Homo sapiens: one gene and its partners. The protein of the gene in region 2 interacts with the protein of the main gene of each other region in a biochemical or structural test. Each region holds a gene or a part of one and is shown on either strand. Other genes may lie near its edges. The genes, in order: BATF, NFE2L1 and ATF7.

Region 1 (3,723 bases), on a different chromosome or scaffold from region 2:
TCTTTGGTCAGAATTCTGTCACATGGCTACCCCTAGCTACAAGGTAAGGTAAGCTGGAATTTTTTTTTTTTTTTTTTTTTTTTTTTAGCAATTCTTTTCCCAGTCTTTCTAGAGGAAGGCAAGGCAGAAGGGGTTTGGGATGGACGCTGAATGAACCAAACTATAGTTTTTTTCACATTTGAGGGCAATGAAATCATAGTCTTGAAAACCAAGGACCAGGCGATAGCCTTTTCACCCTGTGACTAGACAGGTCCCTGAGGGCACGGCTGATGTGGCCAATCTTCTGTAAATGCAAAGGTGCTTATGGCCCTAGAGCTTCAGCTCTAAGACATGAAAGTGAAGGTTCCTCCAGAATCACACACGTGCATTATTCAGCGCAAAGATCTGTGGTTTGGTGATTCTTCTTCTCCTTTCATAAGGTGAGAGGCAGCAGTTGGGGTGAATTTCCCCAGGAATGGTGGGAGATGTGGGCCTAGATCCTCCCGCTGCTTGGGAAGAGTCGTACTTTTCAGTTGGAAGCCTGCTCCAGGAATGGCGGGCTCCACCCTCTGCATGTGACGTACAGGGGCTGGTAACTGATGGAGCCTGAACATATATCTGGGTGTGAGGGATAAGCTTCGAACGCCACTTAAGTGTAGGTGGGAGCCAAAAGGTCACCCTGCCAATACATGATTACATGTCCTGTTGAGGAGAAAATACACAGGGACTATTTTCACCCTTCTGGAAATTGTGATTAGAAAATGCAAGGAGAAGGCCAAGACACTAAACTGGAGCTGGTAGGGAGGAAGCCTCAGCCCTGCTCAGGGTGCCTGGACAGTCCCCACCAGGGCCCAGCTAGGAAATGCCAGCCTTGTCCTTGGTCTTCGTCCCTAATGGCTCCCGGCGGGTGAGGGAACTGCCTGGGGATTCCCCATCGTTGAAGCGCTCTGTGAGTGACCCCCTCCTAAGCCCCTCCAGTAGGGGATTTCCCAGAATGTTCCCACGCCCCCAGGAAGCCTCTTCCTTAGCCACCCCCAAGCTGCTTGCGGTTCATGGTAGAGGTAGGTGGCATCAAATGACCCCACAGGTGAGGGATTTGCCTGAGGTGGGAAAAGAGGGAAGATAAAATTGGAAAGCCACCGGGGCTGAGGAATTATCTCATAGGAGAGAACTGTCAAACAGTATAACGTTTAAACAGACTTTAAAGGCAAGAAAGGATGGAGGGCACAGACTCTGAAGCCAGAGTGCCTCAATTCAAGTACCGGTGCTGCAACTTCCAAGCTGCGTGATCTTGAGCCAGTGACTTAACTTCTCTGTTCCTCTGTTTTTCCTCTTCTGTAAAACGGAGATAATATTTTCTACCACACAAGTTTGTTGAAAATATCAAATGTAATGATAACCATAAAATACTTAAAAGAGTGATTGGCACACGGAAGTATTCAATAAATGTTAGTTATTGGCCAGGCATGGATGATTCACGCCTGAAATCCCAGAACTTTGGGAGGCTGAGGCAGGCGGATCACTTGCGGTCAGAAGTTCAAAACCAGCCTGGCCAACATGGTGAAACCCCGTCTCTACTAGAAATACAAAAAGTTAGCCAAGTGTATTGGCGGGCACCTGTAACCCCAGCTACCCAGAAGGCTGAGGTGGGGAGAATTGCTTGAACCAGGGAGGCAGAGGTTGCGGTGAGCTGAGATTGCACCACTGCACTCCCAGTCTGGGCAACAGAGAGAGACTCTGTCTCAAAAATTAAATAAACAAATAAATGATAGTTAAGTTAACCTAGGCTATTTTTTTAAAAAAATTTTGGTTTCTATCCACCTTTTTCGTATAAATTGAGCCAGGTTACACCTTAGACCTATTAGATCAGAATCAGGCATCAGGATTGCTAAAGCTCCCCAGGGGACCCCAGTGTGTGGATGAGGTTGAGAATCATTGTTTTGGTCCAGTCTTTCCATTTTAAAGTGAGGCAACTGGAGCTGAATAGGGAAATCGAGTCACTGAGGATCACCCAGCCAGGACCAGGGCCCAAGTTCCTATTCCCATTTACCGCTGATGGAGCTCACCGTGGTCATGAGTTCAGGACCTGGCTCTGTGTCTGGAGGAAGGTCTGGCCTCGAGTCAGCCCTTGTCCAGAATATCTGGCCAGGTGACCCCCTCTCCATGCAGCCCAGGAGGCAGATGGTCAGCTCTATGATTGGAAGAATGTGAGTGACTCAGGGATCTTGTGTTGTGTTGTGTTGTGTGTGGGTCACCAAAACCGAGACCCAGCTTTCTCCTGGGAGACAACAGGGTAGCCAAGGACTTATTTTTTTGTTTTGTTTTGTTTTGTTTTTTGAGACAGAGTCTTGCTGGGTTGCCCAGGCTGAACTACAATGGTAAAATCTTGGCTCACTGCAACTTCTGCCTCCCAGGTTCAAGTGATTCTCCTGCCTCAGCCTCCGGAGTTGCTGGGACTACAGGCATGCGCCACCACGCCCGGCTAATTTTTGTATTTTTTGTAGAGACAGGGCTTCACCATGCTGGCCAGGCTGGTCTTGAATTCCTGACCTCAAGTGATCTGCCCACCTCAGCCTCCCAAAGTGCTGGGATTACAGGCGTGAGCCACAGCACCTGGCCAACTTTCTAGTGTTCTCGGGAGACCTTTGCCCACTCAAGTCTCCAGTCTCTCGGGGGAAGCAGTCAGTGTGAGAGAAGGAACACAGGGCCCCGAGCCAAGCCCTGCTCTGCGCCTCCCTCGCGGGCAATGAGTCTTTGCATCAAACACTCAAAGTTTCTGAACTTCTGAGAAAACAAGTGCCTTGAGGTGAATCCTATAGCACAGCTGTCACCAGCCTGTGGTCATTTTGGAGGGTATGTGGCATAGGTTTGTCCCAGGGTCTCAGTTGTCCTCATCTGTAGAGTGGGGATAATAACAGCTGACCTTCCCTATCCCACACAGAGCGTTATTGTGAGGAGTCTGATGGACCTGGATGAATTCTGAATAGGAGAAAGATGGGTACATGGATGCCCAAATGCAGGCTCACCCCCACCCCTCTCAGTAGCAGAAGACATGCATATGGGAGAAGCTGCATTTCCTCCCAGCCTCACTGTGCTCTAGGTGTCCAGCCCTCATTGTTAGGGGATGTCACTGTTGTACCTCTGGATAAACAGCTGCTCTCATGCCACCTTTGCCAGTTGTCCCTTCAGCTGGGCGAGCCCTTTCCAGGGCATGACTGCCCCAAGGAGGGCCAGAGGGGACTGGGCAATAGCAGGGACATGGAGGGACGAGGCCCCAGATCAGCCACTTCCTCCTGCAAGGGAAGTCAAACCCTTTCTCTCATAAGTGTCAGGCTGGCTGCACGGTCCCTGGGCTGGCAGGGCAGGTTTCTTGGGGGCCCTAGCAGGAAGCACTCTTGCTTCCCAAGGTAAAGACAAGTTTCTTATCACTGGCGGTGGTTTTCTGGTTAGAGGCAGCAGGCAGCGGTTACAAACTTTGCCTAGAGCTCTGGGATCTGCAAGCCAGGGAGGGGGAGGCAGACGACAGAGCTAGAGTGAGCTCAGCAGAGCTTGCTTAGGGAGGAAGGACCCGCTGTCACTTCCCGAAAGCTGGGCCAGCCTCTAGGCGGGGAGAAGGTCAGAGTGGCCCTCCCTTCTGCCTCGGGGTTTGCCCAGGCTCTTCAGAGCACAGAATTTACAGTAAATGTTGTCACCAGTGGAAACTCTCAGAGGGGGCGAAGAAAAGGGCTAGAGGAAGGAGCCAGG
Region 2 (3,500 bases):
GCCCAGCCAGCCCCCTTCCTCCATCCTTGAGCAGCCCCCTCCCACCTCACAACCCCAGTTCCACTCAGGCGCCCAGCTGCCCCCACCCTGAGCTCACCGCAGAGGCTGCAGTGAGATGGGACTCCCACCCCATGCTCCGTGCTCAAGCTGCAGAGGAAAGCAAGCTCCCTCCTGGGCCTATCCTCCCGCTCCTCCCCCCCACGCCCCCCAAACTTGTTACCTAGGCTGCAGCAGGGAGCCAATCCCCACCCCCTCCCACCCCGCAGGTCACTGCTGAGGCTGCAGAGAGCCAATCCCCTCCCCCAGGTCAGCAGCTGGGCTGCGCAAAGAGCCAATCCCCTCCCACTGTCGTTACCTAGGCTGCGCCGAGAGCCAATCTCCTCCCCCAAGTCTCCGCTGGAGATGCGGAAGGAGCCAATCCCCTCCCACCGCCTGTTACCTAGCTGCAGACGGGAGCCAATCTCTGCATCAGGGCAGCTGGAGAAGCTGCCGCAAGGAACCAGCCCATCCCTGGGCCGCCTCCGTCTCCTTGAGGAGATGCGCCCAGGGGCGGGCAGCCCCACCCAGCCCAGTCAGTCAGCTGGGGTGGCGCAGTGAGAGCCCTGGGGGAAGGGGTGCCACTCTCCTCCCTCCTGTCGCATCTTGCTCATCCAGCCCACTCAGGACTGGGCAGACACTTCTCCCGCAGATTCTCTGGGAATCTAAATTATTTGCTGGAAGTGGAAAGAGTTATCCCATTCCTCAGGAAGGCAGTGGCCAGTTCTCAAGGCCAGGGATCACGAGCCAGGCTGGGCAGGAACCCAGGGCACCCAGGCCCACCATAAGCCGTAAGTTTTGTCACCCCAAAATAGGCCAGACTAGAGAAAAGGGGAAGGCCATTTTGCCCACGTGCAGCAATGTCACAGTGCTGGCCAAGCCTAGCCCCAAGCAAGAGGAGGGGAGACACAACCCTGAAGCCCCATACTTAGGGAGACAGGTGCTCTGCATTCTCCTGGCCACAAATGTCCCCCCTCCCCTTTCACCCCGGCTTTATTCAAGAGCATTCTCTGCCTGATTCCTGGCCCATATCTCATCCAAGCAGGAAAGAAGCCCCTCACAGACTCAGTATCACAATTCAGACTCCCTGGATTGGTTTCTCGAGGGGAAATTTAGCTCCCTCCCCACTGCTGCTCCCCTGGAGCCTAAGGTCAGGTCAGAGAGACAGTATGTTCTCTCTGGTCACAGTCAGCTCCTAGCCTGGAAAGAGCTGTAAACAGGCCACCCCCCTGCTCTGGGCAGAATGCCAATCTCAAGGGGAATCCTATCCCTGACAACAGCCTAGGCTATGGCTGTCCATAGAGCAGGCCTGGCAGCGGGGGAGTACTGCCACCCCAGGGATAATACCGGTTCCAGCAGTGCCTGTCACATGCTCTGGACCTGGGTATTTTTATCCCTGAGTTGCTGAGGAAATGTTGTTCTAGACACATAATAATCCTCCCTTCCCCCATACCCAGCCTGGGCCCCTAATGCTGACCCACCCCACCTCCCAAAGGGAGTTATAAAGGCCTGAGATGAGGAAAAGCACAACCTTCACGAGGGCCAAGAAACAGAGGAAAGCAGGGTCAAAGTCCCATCCCATTCGGCCCCAACCCACCCAATAATATCCAAAATATCCCATCCCATCCCAGCAGGAACAGATATGCAGCTACCCTGCAGGGTTTCCAGGAGCAAACCCAGTTACACCCACCCCTGGGGGAGCTACCCTGGGGGAGGAGCATAGAGCAGAGACTGGGAAGCACACTTCAGAACACTGTGCCAAGATTAGAGCCCACTTGAAGGAAAGGGGAAGCAGAAGAGAGGTGAAGTTCCAAGTGGCCCTGTAAGAAGCTAAATTAACAGGCCCTGAAAGGTAAGAAATGTTCCTGGCTCCTGCGCTCAGATAATCCTAGTCTCTCTCAAAGCAGGTCCAGTATGAGCCATTTGAGCACAGAGCCGAGTGTCTCAATCCCTGCACTACTGACACTTGGGGTCAGACAAATCTGTTGTTTGAAGGTGTTCTGTGCCATTCAAGATGTTAACCAGCATCCTTGGCCCCTACCCACTAGGTGCCAGTAGCAACCCCGCCCCAAGATGTGACAACCAAAACTGTTTCACGATATTGCCACCTGCACCCTCGGGGACAAAATCACCCCCAGTTGAGGACCACTGGCCTAGAACAAGCCATACTCTTTGACAGTCACTAACAGTCAGAGAACTAAGCTCAGGAAAAGACTACAGAGCAGGGAAGGAGGGAAAACGTGGTCTGACCTGGCAGGCAGAGAAGCCCATTTCTGTAACATCTGTAAAACTTTTTACATTCCTTCACATGCCACCTCCAAAAACCCAATCGGGCTTTCTCCTTCCCTAATGGCCAGGGGAGTGCAGTGGGCCTCTTTCCCGGCTACTTAAGGCTGGATGGCAAGCGAGAGCCATACAAACCCAGAGCTCAAAGCAATCTTATGTTGGTGAGGCAGGGGCAGCAGCAGCCATTCACATCTTGAAAGGCAAAGAACTGCATCGCTTTCTGCCCAGAACAGTATGTCAGCCATGTGACAAGAGCTAAGGATCTCTTCTGACAGCTCAAAGCAAGTTGACTTGGGCAGCAGAATGCAGTTTCTCTTTCTAGCTCCCAGACTTCTCTTCCCTACTCCCTGCAGTGGGCCTTTTGCAAAGATTGGAAGCCTTGGCCCTCTCCTGGCCAAGAATAACTATCCAAATCTACCCTTTGGCTCAGGCCCAGGAGGTCTGAATTATCAGGACAATACAACAACAGGCCTCGCCACAAAGGAGAACTTCAGGGTATGTCTGTGTTCTGATGTGGGGGGAGGTACAAAACAAGAGTCCAAAAAGTATTTGTGTCTTAGCAACAGATGTACACTGCATCAAAGCCCATCACAACATGACTCCTCCCCCACCCCAGGCCTCCAGCAGTCACGCTGAAATCCAAGCAGTAAACACCCTGGCATGTGTAGGAACCTCCCACTGCCCTGACAGTACATTTAGAGGTAGGTCAATGGTTCAACACAGGGAAATGCTCCCAGCCCCCAATCCTAAAGTCAGAAAGTTCAGCCCATCCCTACCCAAGAACAGTGCCTGAGGCCCTGCTGAAACCTGTCTGGCTCTTTACAGGGCTCAGTGTTCTGACCACAATCCTTTGGGACCAGCCCACCCCCAAGCCCCAGGCCCCACACACCCACCACAGGTCCACTAACCTCTTTGGTTAAGTCTCCACTGACTGGGGGGGCTACAGCCCCCAAATCCTCCAAATCTTCACCGAATCCCTGCTCCGTTTCGCTTTCTCGCACCCCGTTGTCTGGGCCTGTCACATCTTGGAGGCCACTGGAACTCTCGAGGGCGAGGCCTGAGTTGGGCTGACTGCCAGAGACAGACCCCTCTGGGTCTCGGTGAACCAGCCAGGCATTTACCTCAGTGGTTGGCACCTGGAACCTGTCCAGGGCCCTCACCTGACTGAGGAGCCGCCG
Region 3 (3,723 bases), on a different chromosome or scaffold from region 2:
TTCTCACTTATTAATTGAAGTATAACATACAGTGATGTGCATTAAAGTCATAACAACAAAATGACTTTTAGGCTGGGTGCGGTGCTCACGTCTGTAATCGCAGCACTTTGGGAGGCTGAAGCAAGAGAATTGCTTGAGCCTGGGAGGCAGACGTTGCAGTGAGCTGAGATTGCACCACTGCACTCCAGCCTGGGCATCAGAGCAAGACTTTCTCTCAAAAGAAAAAAAAAAAAAGATGACTTGTTACAGATGTAAAATCAGGATACAGACCATTTCCAGCACCCCAGAAAGTTCTATGTCCCTTTCCAATCCACACCATTCCTTCACAGGAGGTAAATGCTATCCTGAGTTCTATCATTGTCAAACAGTTTTGCCTCTTCTTGAATTTTATAAGTATGTACTTTTGTGTATGACTTTTTTGTTGTTGTTGGATATGTTTGTGGGATTCACTCACATTGCTGTGTAATTATTAGTTCACTTTTTTTTTTTTTTTGAGACGGAGTTTTGCTCTGTCGCTCAGGCTGGAGTGCAATGGTGCAATCTTGGCTCACTGAAACCCTGGCCTCCTGGGTTCAAGCAATTCTCCTATCTCAGCCTCCCGAGTAGCTGGGATTATAGGCACACACCACCACATCCAGCTAATTTTTGTATTTTTGGTAGAGATGGGGTTTCACTATGTTGGCCAGGCTGGTCTTGAACTCCTGGCCTCAAGTGATTCCACCACCTCGGCCTCCCAAAGTGCTGGGATTACAGGCATGAGCCACCGTGCCTGACTGATTTTTGGCTATTAAGAATACAATTGCTGGCCGGGCGCGGTGGCTCAATCCTGTAACCCTAGCACTTTGGGAGGCCGAGGCGGGCAGATCGCCTGAGGTCAGGAGATCGAGACCAGCCTGACAAATGTGGTGAAACCCCATCTCTACTAAAAGTACAAAAATTAGCCGGGCGTGGTGGCACGCACCTGTAGTCCCAGCTACTTGGGAGGCTGAGGCAGGAGAATCGCTCAAACCTGGGAGGCAGAGGTTGCAGTGAGCCAAGATCACGCCATTGCACTCCAGCCTGGGTGACAGAGTGAGACTGTCTCAACAACAACAACAACAACAAAAGAATACAATTGCTATGAACATTCTAACATACTTCTTTTGGTAGACATATGCACTAATTTCTCTTCCATATAGACTTATAAGTGAAATTGCTGGGAAGGAGAATAGGTATAATTTATATAAATCTTCTAAATATTCCTTTAAATACAATCGGTCCTCCTATAATACATACTTTTTTTTTTCTTGAGACAGTCTCACTCTGTTGCCCAGGCTGGGGTGCAGTGGAGCAATCACAGCTCACTGCAGCCTCGACCTCTAGGGCTTAAGTGATCCTCCACCTCATACTCTCAAGTAGCTGGAACTACAGGCATGCTCCACCACGCCCAGGTAATTTTTGTATTTTAAGTGGAGATGGGGTTTCTCCATGTTGCCCAGGCTGGTCTTGAATTTCTGGGCTCAAGTGATTCTCCCATCTTGGCCTCCTGAGTAGTTAGGACATACTATTTATATAATTAATGAATCAAAACTTTATCAATTAACATTTGAGATGATCCTTGGTAGAGAATTTACCTTCTCCTTCAGTGGTGGGGAACAGGGACTAGAGGCAGGGCTATCAGGTGGGGATGAGTCTACCTCCACTGGCTCTTCTTCTTTGATTTTGATGTCTGGTGTGGAAGGCAGAGACATGTCAAGGGGCCCAGCAGCAGCCTGTTGTGAAAGAAAAATGAACAGAGTTTAACCCTATGATTCCTTTCAGGTTGAATCTATATTTTCCCATTTCCAAGATAAGGGAATATGCTTCTAAGAAGTTCTGCTCTTATACAATGCACTGAACTGCATGTCAAATAAATGTGGGCCCCTTATGTTTGATTTGTTTTGTATTTTGAGGCGTAGTTTCAATCTTGTTGCCCAGGCTAGAGTGCAATGGTGTGATCTCGTCTCACTGCAACTTCCACCTCCCAAGTTCAAGAGATTCTCCCGCCTCAGCCTCCCAAGTAGCTGGGATTATAGGCATGTGCCACCACGCCCAGCTAATTTTTTATTTTTAATAGAGATGGGGTTTCTCCATGTTGGTCAGGCTGATCTCGAACTCCCGACCTCAGGTGATTCACCTGCCTCAGCCTCCCAAAGTGTTGGGATTACAGGAATGAGCCACTGCATCCGGCCAAGAAATATGGGCCCCTTATGTTTTATGTACAATTCTGGCCAAATCATTTTGTCGGTAATTCTCAGGGCTTCTGTTTCCCCAACTATAAGATGAAGATAATACCTGCTTCACCAATGGTAAACAAATATTTATAAAGACCTGAAAAAAAAGATGCCATTTAAATCCATGCAAATATTATGATAATATTTTTCAGGAAATCAAAATAATTCCTGAATCTGCTGGCCACTGGAGAGCTGTGAACACTTTCTCTGCCAACAAGGATTACCCAATTACCAAAAGCAAACAAAGACAAACTGGCTATTCAAGTACTGCAAACCAGATAGGAAAGGTATTTTCTGGGGAACTCACCATGCTTGATGGTGATCTCACCCCAAAATATGGTGCTGGATGTATCAGGTAGACAAGGGGTTTGGGGTAACAGAAAAGAAAGGCTGATCATCTGATTGGTGAAATAAATGACAACTTGGTCTTAGGAGCAAGACTGGAGAAAACCAGAAAGGAAAGAGAGCACTTTCCTGGCAGTGATGCAATCACCTCACAGAACTGTGGAGCTGTAAACGGCCTTGCAGGGAACAATAAACCATCTGAGATAATGGCCTTGACACTGAACCAGGATAGGAGGGTTGGCATTGCAGTTCAGTTTCATAACAAAGTGGATCCTTTGTTCTATCTATCCTGTATCCCAGGCTTCTTGGTGAAGCAACTGCTTGTTTCAAGATCTTCCCTTGCTACCCTAACCCTTAGAAACCTTCTTGATAGCTAGCTGAGTAAATTAAAGATAATGTGATATCTACTACATTAGAGAAGGTAGTAGTGGTTCATTTTCCCCAATCTGAGGAGGGTGAGCAACAGCAAAAGTAGCTTCATTTCTGCCTCATTTTTTCTACATAGCTAAGATGTCAGGTCCAATTTAGCTAATTCTGAGATCTCTTAAGTCAGAGACTAGTGGGAAGGAGAAGCCTCTAAGTAAATACAACCATAGATTTGAAATCCTCTAGGGCATCTCCTAGCAAAGCTGCGGTTCAGCAAAGTTCCACACTCATTAAACACTTCTGGAGACTCTTCCACTGAGCCTGTACTTCTCATTAAGGGGAAGTAAAGACCACTCCTGTACAGGCAGGAGGATACACCAAGGAATGCCCAGTGAGGAAAGGGCTGACTATAAACTAGTCTCCCAGAAGTGTCAACTGAGCTAAAATGGCAATGAAAAAGACTTGAAGCTTTTTATGGGAAGCTAATTTTCTTGAATTTGCCTATAATAAATTGGGTATAAAATCCCTCATAGGCCAAGTGTGGTGGCTCATGCCTGTAATCTCAACACTTTGGGAGGCCAAGGTGGGAGGATCACCTGAGGCCCGAAATTCTAGACCAGCCTGTGCAAATAGCAAAACCCTTTCTTGGACAGGTGTGGTGGCTCATGCCTGTAATCTCAGCACTTTGGGAATTCGAGGTGGGAGGATTGCTTGAGCCCAGGAGTTTGAGACCAGCCTGTGCAACATAGTGAGACCCTGT

What was found.
Region 1: the proteins of NFE2L1 (region 2) and BATF interact in a test that uses a peptide from one of them, tested with the Homo sapiens proteins (one large-scale study listed by IntAct).
Region 3: the proteins of NFE2L1 (region 2) and ATF7 interact in a test that uses a peptide from one of them, tested with the Homo sapiens proteins (one large-scale study listed by IntAct).

Annotation. Positions count from the first base shown.
Region 1 is NC_000014.9:75,539,366-75,543,088, forward strand, and holds part of BATF (basic leucine zipper transcriptional factor ATF-like), read left to right. Parts: intron 1-3,723. UniProt on the Homo sapiens protein: AP-1 family transcription factor that controls the differentiation of lineage-specific cells in the immune system: specifically mediates the differentiation of T-helper 17 cells (Th17), follicular T-helper cells (TfH), CD8(+) dendritic cells and class-switch recombination (CSR) in B-cells.
Region 2 is NC_000017.11:48,051,359-48,054,858, reverse strand, and holds part of NFE2L1 (endoplasmic reticulum membrane sensor NFE2L1), read right to left. Parts: coding exon 3,231-3,500; intron 1-3,230.
Region 3 is NC_000012.12:53,535,802-53,539,524, forward strand, and holds part of ATF7 (cyclic AMP-dependent transcription factor ATF-7), read right to left. Parts: intron 2,540-3,723; exon of another isoform or gene 2,405-2,539; intron 1,752-2,404; coding exon 1,614-1,751; intron 1-1,613. Other genes in the region: ATF7-NPFF readthrough protein, read right to left, coding at 1,614-1,751. UniProt on the Homo sapiens protein: Stress-responsive chromatin regulator that plays a role in various biological processes including innate immunological memory, adipocyte differentiation or telomerase regulation.